4 linked regions of the Homo sapiens genome follow. The protein of the gene in region 1 interacts with the protein of each later gene in a pairwise test. Each region holds a gene or a part of one and is shown in the gene's direction. Other genes may lie near its edges.

What was found.
Region 2: the proteins of TRAF3IP3 (region 1) and GOLM2 interact in a two-hybrid assay, tested with the Homo sapiens proteins (one large-scale study listed by BioGRID).
Region 3: the proteins of TRAF3IP3 (region 1) and NLRP12 interact in a two-hybrid assay, tested with the Homo sapiens proteins (one large-scale study listed by IntAct).
Region 4: the proteins of TRAF3IP3 (region 1) and CEP68 interact in binary tests that used the Homo sapiens proteins (3 or more experiments, as listed by UniProt).

Annotation. Positions count from the first base shown.
Region 1 is NC_000001.11:209,772,795-209,776,783, forward strand, and holds part of TRAF3IP3 (TRAF3-interacting JNK-activating modulator), read left to right. Parts: intron 1-153; coding exon 154-225; intron 226-2,495; coding exon of another isoform or gene 2,496-2,554; coding exon 2,555-2,695; intron 2,696-2,779; coding exon of another isoform or gene 2,780-2,794; exon of another isoform or gene 2,795-2,804; coding exon 2,805-2,942; coding exon of another isoform or gene 2,943-3,330; intron 3,331-3,989. UniProt on the Homo sapiens protein: Adapter protein that plays essential roles in both innate and adaptive immunity. Plays a crucial role in the regulation of thymocyte development.
Region 2 is NC_000015.10:44,294,925-44,298,764, forward strand, and holds part of GOLM2 (protein GOLM2), read left to right. Parts: intron 1-3,840.
Region 3 is NC_000019.10:53,814,269-53,818,108, reverse strand, and holds part of NLRP12 (NACHT, LRR and PYD domains-containing protein 12), read left to right. Parts: intron 1-3,120; coding exon 3,121-3,201; intron 3,202-3,840. UniProt on the Homo sapiens protein: Plays an essential role as an potent mitigator of inflammation. Primarily expressed in dendritic cells and macrophages, inhibits both canonical and non-canonical NF-kappa-B and ERK activation pathways.
Region 4 is NC_000002.12:65,080,122-65,083,961, forward strand, and holds part of CEP68 (centrosomal protein of 68 kDa), read left to right. Parts: intron 1-154; coding exon of another isoform or gene 155-216; exon of another isoform or gene 217-729; intron 730-2,414; coding exon 2,415-2,584; 3' UTR 2,585-2,588; intron 2,589-3,517; 3' UTR 3,518-3,840. UniProt on the Homo sapiens protein: Involved in maintenance of centrosome cohesion, probably as part of a linker structure which prevents centrosome splitting. Required for localization of CDK5RAP2 to the centrosome during interphase. Contributes to CROCC/rootletin filament formation.

The DNA of each region.
Region 1 (3,989 bases):
CATCCTTTGTCATCTTTGCTCCTGCCTGCCTCCTGAAAGAGTTCACTGTTTGAGCACCAACCATGTGCTGGGCAGTAGAATAGGAATATAGAGTCAAACTCTTTGCAGACTAGATTTTGCCCCAAGCTCATTAACTCATCCCATTTGCTCCAGGGACAGCTTAATGAAGACAAACTGAAGGGGAAACTGAGATCCTTAGAAAACCAGCTATACACCTGTACCCAGGTAAGCATTCTGAAGGATACTTCCATCTCAGGAATCTAGAATTAAATGAGAAGAATGTTTTTGAACCTCAATCTTACTTTCGAGAAACACCACCAGATAGAGAATAACACACCCATTCCTACTTACCCATTTCTGGCTTGGCCATTTACACTTTAGTCTCTAATTCACTAGATCACTGTCTCCATCCTTCTTCCTCTCCCTTTCTCCCAGTATCCTTCTCTTTGCACCCTGGAGGAATCCCAGCACTAACCAGTTTGTCAGCTCCAGGGGAACCTTGAGAATACCTGACACTGTAGGGGAAGGCCCTTGGTAAAGACTCACATCACCCAGACAGCCCTTTACGCATCCTAATCTTTGAACAGATGAGTTAGATGTTATAATGAAGTCTTACAAAATTATTTTCATTCCATGGGTAACTTTTTTCTGTTTTTTCTAGCAACCCCTGGAAGAATGTAAAAGCTCTTTTACTTGGCTCTTCTGTAACACCATTTTCCAGCATTAGTAATCTCTTGATTGGCCTAATCTTGGTTTATAAGAGATAGAAAGAAATCAGCTTTCACATTTGAGAAGTGATGGATACCTGACAGGTGGGAAGATATCAAATCAGAGAATGGGGTGAAACAGGCAGAATTCTCCCATCTGGAGTTAGAGAGAGAAGACAGTCCTGGCCACATTGATGGCGTCTTACAGGGGAAGAGAGTTTATGGAGTCTATAAGTTTCTTGGTCCACAACTTTCATTTTTTCAGTATAACTTGCTTTGTCAGGACTAAATAATGCCAACCAAGTTCACAGGAGACTAATATATAATCCAGAATGCCAGTCTATTCATTTTCAATAGGGAATAACACATAACCAGTGCCCAGCATGGATGGTCATTGGATGTCCAATAACTGGGACATCCCCTACATATGACCTCAACCAGGTTAATTCCTGGATCTGGTTTTTAATGAAAGTTCCAAAACTATAAGACCCACTCAAATTTAAATCCAAAATTTCAGACAATTCCAAAGCTAAATGGAAATGATTTCATATTGATCCCTAAATTGTTGTCATCTGGTCTACTGCTTACACAGTAGGTAATCCAGAATTGACAATAAAATCTGCCTGCCTTCTCCGAAATCACAGGGCATAAAGATGAAAGAAAGGGAGAAGGCAAGACCCCCAGTGAATTTGCAAAGCTGCGCTTGTGTCTCCTTAATCCTGCAGCCAGGAGGAATTTTATAATGCAAATGTATTAATTTTAAAACATGAAGTTCATTAGGCATTGTAAAGAAGCTACAATGATTTTTTTTTAAAGCAGCAGCAGTATGCTCCCTCCCTGAAGGAGTTTACAATCCAGTATGAAAGACAGATGAGTCAATAGAGTAGAATAATAGAGGCATGCAGGGGATACTATGTGAACACCATGAACCCTAAGAAAAGCTACCTAATCCATAAGACATTGTGGGATGGGGGTAGTTGGTCAATTTATCAGAACTGATGATACTGGACTGAATCTTGAGTATTAGTAGAAGTTAACTGGCTGTAGGCAGAAGAAGCTACATGGGTAAAGGCAGAGCCCCAAAAAACAGAGTGCTGGGGGATCTGCAAACATCTCAGCTTAGGTGGAAGTAGCATGGGATGAAAGTCTAGGCGTGTAAGAGGAGCCATGACAAGGAGTTTGGATGTGATTCTTAGTATGCTGAGAATCCATGGAGAGATTTATACAGGAAGTGGCAAGATCAGATTTGCATTTTAGAAAGAACCCTCTAAATGCAGAACTGAAAAGGGACTGAAGGGAGGCAAGATTTGAAGAAAGGGAGGCTGTTGCATTAATCCACATAACACTACTACTAGAGCCTGAACTAAGGAAGCAGCAGTAGGGATAGAGAGGAGACAGATATGAGCTGTTAAGGAAATTGTCAAGGCTCAATGACCAACTGATTAGAGGGGGAGGAAGTGAGAGAGAAAATGAAGATTGACTCCCTGGTTTAGGGTTTGGAAAAGCCTGGATGGATGATGATTCTGGTCACTGAGATAGGAACCCCAAGAAAAAAGAACATGTTTAGAAAGATGAGTCCTGTTTAGACATCTTGGATTCCAAGAGCTTGCAGAAGGCCTCAGATATAATGCCCAGGAAGCCTAGGGCACTGTTTATTATGCCCTCCACTCATCTCTCATTGCCTGAGGGACTCTTCTTGCTAGCTCTACCCTAAAAGAAATGGCTCACTAGATTACTGGTATCTCTGCCTGGGGGAAGAACCAACTTCTTTTCATTTCTGTATCCCAGCTCAGGATTTGGCACACAGAAGCTCAATGTGTATTTGTTGAATTGCATCAAATTTACAGAAATACTCCCCTTGGGGAATGAAAAAAGTACTACTGGAGATGGAAGACCAGAAAAACAGCTATGAGCAGAAGGCCAAGGAGTCACTGCAGAAAGTGCTGGAGGAGAAAATGAATGCAGAGCAGCAACTACAGAGCACACAGGTATGGGGATGCCACATAGACATGGGGCTGGGGACTCCAGGCAGCTTGGGGAACAAGGGGAGCCAGCTGCACAACTCCCTGGAGCCCTCTCCTCTCTGATCTCCCTCAGCGATCCCTGGCCCTGGCAGAGCAGAAGTGTGAAGAGTGGAGGAGCCAGTATGAGGCTCTGAAGGAGGACTGGAGGACCCTTGGGACCCAGCACAGGGAGCTGGAGAGCCAACTCCACGTGCTTCAGTCCAAACTGCAGGTACCAGGCACTGGGGGTGGGGAGGGAAGACAGGGTATGGGGAGGAGGGATGGTGATGAAAGAAGCTGTTCTGGATTAGGGACTCCAAAGGCAGCTGACAGCATCTGGCTTTCAGTTCCTCAGTCACCACTACTTTGTACCAAATTCACTGTTTTGGCTCTGAAATCTAATTTTGAGTTTAGCAAGGATGTCTGCATTGCTCATGCAAATGAACTAAGCGTTCATTGGAATGACACCATCACCACCCAAATGAAAAGAACTGGCTGGAATATTCATCAGCCTACTAATGTCATCTCCCAACCCACTCTCCAAACTCCATCCCAAAAAAGCATCCAGTTCAGAATTGCCCACTGTTGGCAAAGAAAGAATGTCACTAATTTATTTACAGGTGAGTATTAACACTTTCTGCCAATGTGTATTTTAAGCAATTACATTTAGCAATTACAATTAGATTCTTGGCATCCTCAAGGGTTCCATCATCTTCAATCTGTCCTAAGCCTCAGTTTCCCCATCTCTAAAATGAGGATAATAGTACCTACATCATAAGGTGGTTCTGAGTATTAAGTAAGATGATCCATGTAAAGCACTTAGCACAATGCCTGGCACACAAAAACACTCAGTAAATATTAGCTATTATTTTGCATAGATTTATTTACCTGGTTTGGAATTTTGAGGATCCACCTCAAAAGCTGATCTTTGTAATTTTCCTGAAGCAGGGCTCAGAACAGCCCACTTGATAAGAGACAGAGTATGTGAGTCTTATCAAAGGAGTGAACCCAGCTGGTCACTCTGCGTGGTATCCACAGCTCAACCTTTGTTGTTTTCTTCTTCCCATCACCTATAAGGCAACTCCTATGAAGATTTTTGTGAGGGGTTTTTTAACTTTAAATCTTTGTGGAAAAAAAAAGACCCTAACCAAAAAAAAAACTGATACTGCCAGAAGTAGAAAAAAGAGAAAATGAAAACATCCAGAAAACTAATGACTTTGTATTCCTTAATTTGGTGATTTACCAAAGTGTCAAGACATGACTCCCACACCAATGACAA
Region 2 (3,840 bases), on another chromosome or scaffold:
TGGCAGATATGCTCGTTGCTACTATAAGGTTATCTTTGGAAATCAAGGAATCCTTTCTCCAGAGGAATCAGAAAGGTGATATTTGGTTTCTTTCACATTATTATGCCATTCTGTCACTTCCAGTCTGTTACCTGGGTTACTAAACACATAAATTCCTTTTTTTTTTTTTTTCTGAGATGGAGCCTCACTCTGTCACCCAGGCTGGAGCGCAGTGGCGCAGTCTCAGCTCACTTCAACCTCCACCCGCCGGGCTGAAGTGATTCTCCTGCCTCATCCTCCTGAGTAGCTGAGACTACAGGTGCATGCCACCATGCCTGGCTAATTTTTGATTTTTTAGTAGAGACAGGGTTTCACCATGTTGGCCAGGCTGGTCTTTAACTCCTGACCTCAAGTGATCTGCCCACCTTGGCCTCCCAAAGTGCTGGATTACAGGCATGACCCACCACATCCGGCCTTGAACATGGAAATTCTTTAAGGGAGCTTTAAGTTGCTCCTGTCTTGTCCAAAGAAGTGAGAAACAACCCCCACTTCTCTGAGATTCCCTCAAACTTTCTGATTTTTTAAACTTCCCTCTAAAGGGTTTCAGCCTGGAGGGGTGTATTAGTTTGCTAGGGCTGCCATAACAAAATGCCACAGACTAGGTGGCTTAAACAGCAGAAATTTATTTTCTCACATTTTTGAAGGTTGGAAGTCTAAGACCAAGGTGCCAGCAGGGTTGTTTTTCTCTGAACTTCTCTCCTTGGCTTGCAGATGGCAACCTTCTTGCTGCTTTATTGTGACATGATAGTCCCTCTGTATGCACACATCCTTGGTGTCTTTTCCTCTTCTTAAAAGGATACGAGTCATATTGGATTAGACCCACTGTAACTTAAGCACTTTAAAGACCTTGTCTCCAAATACAGTTACATTCTGAGATCCTGGAGGCTGGGACTTCAACATGTGAATTTGGGGGAAACACAGTTCATCTTAGAACAAGGGAGATCCACCACACATACACACACACACACACACACACACACACACAGACACCCTTTTATTTCCTCTTTTATCAGAAAAGTCCTTATTTCTCTTTCCTCAGTACAGGGCATGTCTCTTAACTTTGATTATTATTCTCTCTCTCTTTGTCTTTTAAAGAGATGGGGTCTTACTACATTGCCCAGGCTAGAATGCAGTAGCTATTCATAGGTGTGATCATAGCACACCACAGCCAGGAACTCCTGGTCTCAAGTGAAGGTCCTCCTGTTTAAGCCTTCTGAGTAGCTGAAACTACAGGTGTGCACCACTGTGCTTGGCTCCTAAACTTGGATTCTTGCAAACTGTAGCTCATACTAAAGCTATGTGGTCCAGCTGTGGCACGTCAAGCTCTTGATAAATAAAAGGAGCTGTTAGAATGTAGAAAAAGTCCTCAAAATTGTCGTTTTATTACACACATACACACACATACACACACATCAGTTTTGAGGTTTGAAGCTGAATAGTAAATGACCTTTTTTCCCTTTAACAACCATAATTTTCCTTGAGGCAGCCTATGCCTTTAGTTGAATGGGGAAAAGGTCATATGTCAGAAAGGAGGATGAGAAGCGTATTACAAAAAAATGCTTTTTGGGGGAAAATTTTGGAATATAATAGTAGTCTCTCTTATTCTTGAGAGGTTTGAGTAAATTGATTAAAATTCTTAAAACAGTGCCTACTACATTGTTATTCTACAGCTACTTCCTTATTTCTTTTCTGCCTTTTTTCCAGGATGGGACTCTGTCTGTGTTCCTGCCCAAGATCTGGTCCCAGCCCTAGCCTACCTGCCTCACCCTTTGCTCCTGAATGTCTGACTGTTTTTGTTATTTGCTTGTTTTCAGTTTCCTGGTTCATTTCCAGTTAGGCTTAGTTGGCTCCTCCCATAGGTGTCTTAGCTGACTCCCTAGAGCTTGCCTGTTCTTCTGTAATTTGAGTATCAACCTTCTACAGTTCTAATATGCTGCACATGATAATTCCTGCCTTTGCCTCTGCCTCACCAGCCATAATCTGGCCAACTTTTAACTGTAATTTCTACCTCAAATTATTCATAAACCAATCAAAACTGATAACTCTTCCAAACGATATCCCTTTCCTACCTTCTTGGTTCCTATAAATGATGCCCATGCAACTGTTATTTAAGACTGAGGTTAGAAATTTGGTGTTGTCTTTGATTCCTTCAGTGTATCATATTGAGTGCTTCAACATGCAGAGGAGTTACTTGATCGAATTAAAAAAAACGTCATTCTGACTGCAGAATAGAGAACTTGGCAGATCCCTAACTAGTCCCCTTTCCTTGGTCTCCATTTCTTTTTGTCAGTTCTCCTGTGAAGCCAGCCTGAACTTCCTCAAACCTTATTTTCAGAGTGGCTGTATGACTCACTGACTACATCAGGTTAGAATTCTGCTGTCTCATCTTTAAGGTCTTCCATAGAATGGCTCTAGCTACCTTTGTCTCCCACTATCTCCTGACCCAAATTGTATTTCAGGCTGATTGTTTTGCTTACTTTTGCCTTCCCACCTGCCTTTCTGTGTCATGTTAATTCCTGTTTCTGTGCCTTTGTTCCTGCTGTTTGACTCTTAGTTTCTTGCCTCTTTTCTGTATATTTATTATACCAATTTTTTTTTGTTTTTTTTTTTTTAATTGAGGCAGAGTCTTGCTCTGTCGCCCAGGCTGGAGTGCAGTGGTGTGATCTTGGCTCACTGCAAGCTCCGCCTCCCGGGTTCACACCATTCTCCTGCCTCAGCCTCCTGAGTAGCTAGGACTACAGGCACCCGCCACCAGGCCCAGCTAAATTTTTTGTATTTTGAGTAGAGAAGGGGTTTCACCATGTTAGTCAGGATGGTCTCCATCTTGATCTCCTGACCTCATGATCCACCCGCCTTGGCCTCCCAAAGTGTTGGGATTACAGGTGTGAGCCACCGCACCTGGCCTTTTTTTTTTTTTTTTTTGAGATGGAGTCTTGCTCTGTTGCCCAGGCTGCAGTACAGTGACGCAATCTTGGCTCATTGCAACCTCCGCCTCCCGGGTTTAAGCGACTCTCCTGCCTCAGCCTCCTGAGTAGCTGGGATTACAGGCACGCACCACCAGGCCTGGCTAAATTTTTTTGTATTTTTAATAGAGATGGGGTTTCACCATGTTGGCCAAGCTGGTCTCGAACTCCTGACCTTGTGAACCGTCCACCTTGACCTCCCAAAGTGCTGGGATTACAGGCATGAGCCACCACACCTGGCCTATTCTACCAATCTTTTATCCAGCTTCTGATCCATGTCCACTATGAAGCCCCCTGGGACTTCTGACCTGGAATATGCTTTTCCTTCTTTTCTTTTTCTTTTTTTTTTTTTTTGAGATGGAGTTTTGCTCTTGTCGCCCAGGTTGGAGTGCAATGGCGCGATCTCAGCTTACTGCAACCTCCGCCTCCCAGGTTCAAGTGATTCTCTAGCCTCAGCCTCCCAAGTAGCTGGGATTATAGGCACCCACCACCATGGCCGGCTAATTTTTTTTTTTTTTTTTGTATTTTTAGTAAAGATGGGGTTTTACCACATTGGCCAGGCTGGTCTCGAACTCCTAACCTCAGGTGATCCACCCACCTGGGCCTCCCAAAGTGCTGGGATTACAGGTGTGAGCCACTGCTCCCAGCCATGCTTTTCCTTCTTTATACACCATTTACATTTATTGTTTGAGCTTCATTAACTTATTTTGTTCATTTTTTACTAATAGCTTATTGTTTGTGAACTTCGTTTTCTCAACGAAATTTTAAGTTCCTTGAGGAAGGACTATGTTTTAAATTTTTTCCTGCGGGAAAAATTGTTCTTAGTGCTGTTACAAAA
Region 3 (3,840 bases), on another chromosome or scaffold:
CTCTCTCAAAAAAAAAAAAAAATTGCCAACCAGCTGCAGTGGCTCATGCCTGTAATCCCAGCATGTTGGAGGCTGAGGCACGTGAATCACTTGAGACTAGGAATTTGACAACAGCCTGGCCAACATGGTGAAACCCTGTCTCTACTAAAAATACAAAAATTAGCTGGTCGTGGTTGTACATGCCTGTAATCCCAGCTACTCCGGAGGCTGAGGCAGGAGAATCACTTGAACCCTGGAGGCAGAGGTTGCAGTGAGCCAACATCACACCAGCCTGGACGACACAGTGAGACTCTGTCTCATAAATAAATAAATAAATAAATAGTGCTAAAATACACAAAACATGAAATTTGCCCTCTTTTTCTTTTTTTCTTTGAGATGGAATTTCACTCTTGTTGCCTAGGCTGGAGTGCAGTGGCGCGATCTCGGCTCACTGCAACCTCTGCCTCATGGGTTCAAGCAATTATCCTGCCTCAGCCTCCCAAGTAGCTGGGATTACAGGCATCTGCCACCACGCCCAGCTAATTTTTGTATTTTTAGTAGAGATGGGGTTTCTCCATGTTGGTCAGACTGGTCTTGAACTCCTGACCTCAGGTAATCCACCCACCTTGGCCTCCCAAAGTGCAGGGATTACAGGCATGAGCCACCGCGCCCAGCCTCCTCTTAACCACTTTTTCTTTCTTGAGATGGAGTCTCGCTCCGTCACCAGGCTGGAGTGCAATGATGCGATGTCAGCACACTTCAACCTCTGACTCCCTGGTTCAAGCGATTCTCCTGCCTCAGCCTCCCGAGTAGCTGGGATTACAGGCACGCGCCACCATGCCTGGCTCATTTTTGTATTTTTAATAGAGACAAGGTTTCACCACGTTGGTAAGGCTAGTCTTGAACTCCTGACATCAGGTAATCCCACCTGCCTCGGCCTCCCAAATTGCTGGGACTACAGGTGCCTGCCACCATGCCCAGCTAATTTTTTTTTGTATTTTTAGTAGAGACGGGGTTTCACCGTGTTACCCAGGATGGTCTCGATCTCCTGACCTTGTGATCCACCCGCCTTGGCCTCCCAAAGTGCTGGGATTACAGGCGTGAGCCACCGCGCCCTGGCCCTCTTAACCATTTTTAAGTGTGCTGCTGAGTGTTGTACATTTACACTGATGTGCATTCAATCTGCAGAACTCTTCATCTTGCAAAACAAACTCGATACCCATTAAACAATTCCCTATTTTCCCCTTTCCTCTCAATGATAACCTTCTCCAATTAAAAATTTTTGAGTGGCCGGGTGCAGTAGCTCACGCCTGTAATCCCAGCACTTTGGGAGGCCGAGGCAGGCAGATCACCTGAGGTCAGGAGTTCAAGACCAGCCTGGCCAACATGGTCAAACCGCATCTCTACTAAAAATACAAAAATTATTTTTTTGTATTTTTACCACCACCTGCGTGGTCATGGGTGCCTGTAGTCCCAGCTACTCGGGAGACTGAGGCAGGAGAATCACTTAAACCTGGGAGGTGAAGATTGTAGTGAGCCGAGATCGCGCCACTGCACTCCAGCCTGGGCGACAGAGCGAGACTGTCTCAAATAAATAAAAATAAATAAATAAAATGGTGCCAGATGACTGAATCTACCAGAGCCAGCACTGAACAGAGGAAAGACAACAGTTTATTAGTCACACAGACTCACAGGGAAGGTGTCCCCATATGCCAAGAGGGTCACATGAAGCTACAGAGACTGTTGGGGGGGGCGGGCTGTGTAGTAACAAGAGGGTGGGGTGCCTCCTGGCTCCTTCAAAAGGATGTTCTTTGCTTTCATGAATCATTTCATGGACTAGCAACCAGCAGGGAGGTGAAAACTTATCAGAGTGAGGACCAGATGGGGTGCCGCTGGCTCAGCTGATGGGAGAACTAGCCAGGTGGGAAGACTTTCTCATGGAGTGAGAGCAAAGGAACTCACACTTAGGACTTTGGGGGGCCTTCTGAGGACCAAAGATGCCAAGGAAGGACTCGATGTGTAGAATCTTATGATATATCCAAACGAAGGCCTTTTTTGGGCTGGGCACGATGGCCCATACCACTATTTCCAACACTTCAAGAGGCCAAGGTCGAAAGACTGCTTGAAGCTAGGAGTTCCAGACCAGCCTGGGTAACATACTGAGACCTAATCTCTACCAAAAAAAAAAAAAAAAATTAAAATATTTTTAAGAGACAGAGTCGCCAGGCGCAGTGGCTCACGCCTGTAATCCCAGCACTTTGGGAGGCCGAGTTGGGTGGATCACGAGGTCAGGAGTTCAAGACCAGCCTGACCCACATGGTGAAACCCTGTCTCTACTAAAAATACAAAATAAATTATCCGGGCGTGGTGACACATGCCTGTAGTCCCAGCTACTCAGGAGGCTGAGGCAGGAGAATCACTTGAACCCGGGAGGCAGAGGTTGCAGTGAGCCAAGATTGTGCCACTGCACTCCAGCCTGGGCAACAGAGCCAGACTCCGTCTCGAAAAGAAAAAAGAAAAGATAATGGATGAGATGTGGCCCAGAGCTGACAAGGGAGGAGTCCAGACTGACTCAGAACTTCCCAGTCAAAAAGATTGGTTGGTGCCAGGTGCAGTGGCTCACATCTGTAAACCCAGCACTTTGGGAGGCCAAGGCAGGTGGATCACAAGGTCAGGAGTTCAAGACCAGCCTGGCCAACATAGTGAAACCCCGTCTCTACTAAAAATACAAAAATTAGCCAGGCATTGTGGCGCACACCTGTAATGCCAGCTACTCGTGAGGCTGAGGCAGGAGAATCGCTTGAATTCAGGAGGTGGAGGTTGTGGTGAGCCGAGATCATGCCACTGCATTCCAGCCTGGGCAACAGAGCAAGACTCCGTCTCAAAAAAAAAAAAAAAAAAAAAGACTGATTGGATGGATGGAGGTGCCAATGACCATGAGGGGGACCCAGGGAGGAGGGTGCGCTACAAGGAACAAGGGATGAGCTATTTCCCACACACGGCCTATGCAGTCACTACTGAACATTCTGGGGTGCGGGTGACCAGGGAGTTATGCAGGCATTTCGACGTAATCGCAGCTAATATGACGCGGTGCTACTAGCCAGATGCGTGCTAGCTCATCTTCCACAATTTCTCTTCCAGATACCCCACCTGGTGGCCCGTCCTCACTTGGGAACCAGTCAACATGCCTTCTGGAAGTCTCTCTTGTCACTCCAAGAAAAGGTGAGCCTCAAGCCATGTACCTACATGTATTCATCTACACAGAGCAGCTGACCCCACGGAGTGTAGGCCAACCACAAACGCGTGATTGAGGAATTCGTGGGGTGGATTAATGACACCATCAAAGGGGCAGTTTCCTCCTGTGTTTCAACTCATCAACCTTTCCACGTCAGCATTTTGTCCTGACACGTGTCATCTCCTGGCTGAAAGATGGCTACCAAACCATCTCATACACGCAGGGGCAACAAGGAAGGCTAAGAGGCCAGGTACAGTGGCTCACGCCTGTAATCCCAGCACTTTGGGAGGCCAAAGCGGGCAGATCACCTGAGGTCAGGAGTTCAAGACCAGCCCGGACAACATGGCAAAACCCCGTCTCTACTAAAAATACAAAATTAGCAGGGTGTGGTGGAGCATACCTGTAGTCCCAGCTACTCAGAGGCTGAGGCAGAAGAATCACTTGAACCTGGGAGGTAGAGGTTGCAGTGAGCCAAGATTGCACCACTGCACTCCAGCCTGGGCAACAGAGTGAGACTCCATCTCTTAAAAAAAAAGCAAAGAAAGGAAGGGTAAAGGCCTTCTTCCTCCCTGTTACCAGTCACATCCACGTAACCCACTGGTCAGTACTGGGGAATCTGCCCATTC
Region 4 (3,840 bases), on another chromosome or scaffold:
AAATTCCTTCTCAAAAAAAAAAAAGGCCTCTTAAAAGCTTCAGGTTTTTTGACCTTCATTTTAAAATCAATTTAATAATACTTTTCTGTGCTTAGTCCCACTTTGCTCTCTCAAGAGGTTTTTTACTGGCTTTGGGGTTTTCTTTGGTTTTCAGATATGTATCCAGGCTCTTTCAGATTGACACACAGCCCTTCCCCATCCATCTGCTTGAAATAATCAGGAATGTGGCTGTTTCCCCCTTGAGACGTCAGTGTCTGTCTCCAGCGGGTGCAAAACTTAACTTTTCTTCCGCCAGGAGCATGCTGTCAAAAGTCCATAGAGCCAGCCTACAAACATGTTTTGTTCCAGTCCTTCCCAACTTCTTTTATTTGGCCCCAACCAAACATTCTGACAGTCTAAATAAAAGTTCAAAAGCGTCCGTGCGCAGTGGCTCACGCCTGTAATCTCAACACTTTGGGAGGCCAAGCGGGCAGATCACCTGAGGGCAGGAGTTCAAGACCAGCCTGGCCAACATGGCGAAACCCCATCTCTACTAAAAGTAAAAAAATTAGCTGGGCATGGTGGCGGGCGCCTGTAATCCCAGCTACTCAGGAGGCTGGGGCAGGAGAGTCGCTTGAACCCGGGAGGCAGAGGTTGCAGTGAGCCGAGATCACGCCACTGTACTCCAGCCTGGGCAACAAGAGTAAGACTCCGTCTCAAAATAAATAGATAAATAAAAGTTCAAAAACATAAAGTTGTCCCTGAACCAATGTTTCTGTGACATCGCACAAGAAGACTGGGCAAAGGTCTAATGAAACCAGAGGGGTTAGCCAGCTGCGGTGGCTCATGCCTGTAATCCCAGCACTTTGGGAGGCCAAGGCGGGTGGATCACCTGAGGTCAGGAGTTCGAGACCAGCCTGGCCAGCATGACGAAACCCTGTCTCTACTAAAAATACAAATATTAGCCGGGCGTGGTGGTGGGCGCCAGTAATTCCAACTACTGGGGAGGATGAGGCAGGAGAATCGCTTGAACCTGGGAGGCGGAGGTTTTAGTGAGCCGAGATTTGTGCCGCTGCACTCCAGCCTGGGTGACAGAGTGAGACTCCATCTCAAAAAAAAAAAAAAAGAAACTGGAGGGTAGAACCCAGCCCAGCCACCCTTACAGCCAAGCTTTACCGTGCGCCTGACTGCAATCCTCTGCCACACTCTGCCAACTCTCTTTGTGGACAGCACTTTGCCCTGATGACACCGCACTGATGTGGCTTCCCTAGGAGATCTCAATACAGCCAGCCTGTGTTCCTTCTCCTTCTACTCATCCAGTCAGCATTGTCTGCAGATAAGCTTCCTCTTTCCCTTCCTCTACTGACAGATGTTACAGCTGTGGCAGGAAACTAGGGAGAGTATAAGCACAGCTGATAAAGGTGCAGGAAACTAAGACAGCCTTTGTGCTTAACAAAAATAAATTTTTGAAAAAAGAAAGAAAAAAGCCTGCTGTGTGAGATGCACTCTGACCCTAGCCCATCCCTTCCTCACATGAACAACAATTCTGACACTGCGGGAGTGAATCTTCCCTTAGACTGCTTTCGGGTCATTTTTTTGTTTTGTTTTGTTTTTGAGACAGAGTTGCACTCTTGTTGCCCAGGCTGGAGTGCGATGGCACAGTCTTGGCTCACCACAACCTCTGCCTCCCGGGTTCAAGCCATTCTGCCTCAGCCTCCCGTGTAGCTGGGATTACAGGCATGCGCCACCACACCCGGCTAATTTTTTTATATTTTTAGTAGAGACGGGGTTTCTCCATGTTGGTCAGGCTGGTCTCCAACTCCTGACCTCAGGCAATCCATCCGCCTTGGCCTCCCAAAGTGTTGTTGGGATTACAGGCGTGAGCCACTGCGCCTGGCCAGGTCATTTTCTTTTTCAGTCTGTTCACTGAGGCCCACAAAACAAAGGGTCTCAAGCACTCCCAAATCTATTACAGACCACCCATGTGAAATAACATTCTTCCCAGCCAATAGAAACTGATAGACCTGGTAGCAGGGGTAAGCATCTGAACCTTGGCATGTCGTTTTATTTAAGCCTTATGCCCAAGAGGATCTGGATGTGCCCTTACAGAGATACCTGTCTTACCTCTAAAGTCAGGTAATACCAGCCATCAGAAAACCATAATATCTCTGTGCCCTTCTGTGAATTACGTAATTTCAAAGTGGAGTCAGTGAGTTCTTTTCTTAGCTTTAATCAGAAGTTAACAACATAGGTTCTCCAGTGCAACAGAAGTCCCTGGAGAATCACTGTTAAAAAAGGGCAGACATTCAGAAACTACTGCCAGGTCCTACTTTGTGTAAAATACTATACCCTTGTATGTTCTTTTGAAAATGCTTACTGGACAACACTTGCATGGGTTTTATTTCTGGTTTAATTTCTTTGAACCTCATTGTTAGTTTTAGAGGATGTCCTTGGGAGGATCGCAAAGCAGTCTGGTGAGCTGGAGAGCCACGCAGATCGCCTGTATGACTCTATCTTGGCCTCTCTGGACATGCTGGCTGGCTGCACCCTTATCCCTGACAAAAAGCCCATGGCGGCAATGGAGCACCCATGTGAAGGGGTTTAACCTGGTAAGTGGAGGAACTCAAAAAGAAAATTTGCCCACCAACCCTGCTGTAACAGTTGGCCACTACTTAGAAGCTTGTTGAGCCAAGAACTATTATTTAAACAAATGAGATACTGGAAGAAGACAGCCAATGGTACTAAAAAAGGAGTTGCTGGTCTTCCTATGATGATGAAGGCTCACTGCGGTGCTTTCCATTACTGTTCACCCCTGCTGCCTGCTGAGGATGAGGGTGCCTCTGTGCTGCCATTTCTATGGCACTTTCTTCACCACCAACCCTGCCATCCCAAGACAAGAGCAGCACAACTTATCTGTACACCTACTTTATTTCTGCACAGGTACACTTTTCCAGTATGGGGCCATGACCTGGCCACCCCTGTTCTGCAGGATCTTCTCCCCAGCTCATTTGGTACTCCATCTCCAAGCATCTCTGACAGCACCAAGTGCTTAGAGAAACCCAGAGTTACTGATAACTTTGCACCACCACCCCTGCCCTGCACAAAGGGTCTCCACATATCTCCCACACCACTCCCTTCCAAAAAGGCTAGGGGGATGGAGGGGTTAAAGACACCTTGGAGACTTAACTGGTAGTACAACTTTCTTTTGCTCCCTTGAGAAAGTCAAACAGAATGACAGAAAAGGAGCTAGGAGAGCAAAGGTGGGTGTGTCCACCACAGAGTTGCTACTGCCAATGCTTTTCATAATTCTGCAATTGGACTGTCGTACGTCGCTCCTACAACAAAATGTTTGTAGTGCTTAACTCATAGATTTTCTAGGTGAGCACTATAGGTATGCTAAGAGCAGGGAGTCCCTGTGTTTTTATCAGAGCAACTGTGAGACGTCATCTTGGTTCTAAAATGAATGCAGGGGACTGCTGTTGTCGTTTCTTCCTCTACAACATTATGCCTGTAACAAATGCTGCCTTTTCTCTTTCAGGCATCTTCTCAGGCAGAGGTGCAACCTGTCGGCCAAACACTGGCTAGTGAGAAAAAAAACCTTCAAGAAGTCCTTGCAAGAGCCATTCAACACTGAAGTCAAGGGGGAAACCTTCAATATACTAGCTTTAAAATGCCTTTCTCCTCCCTGAATGGAGGGCTGAGTTACTATTTTTATTTACAATGAATCCTTCCAAACTAAGGTTTTCCTTTTGGTGCTTCTCCACAAAGAGCGTGTAGCTTTGCAATTTTTGATAAAATAAGACGTGTTGCCTTCCCCTCTATCCCATTAAAAAAGAGCAGATAAAGCTCAAACTATTCCAC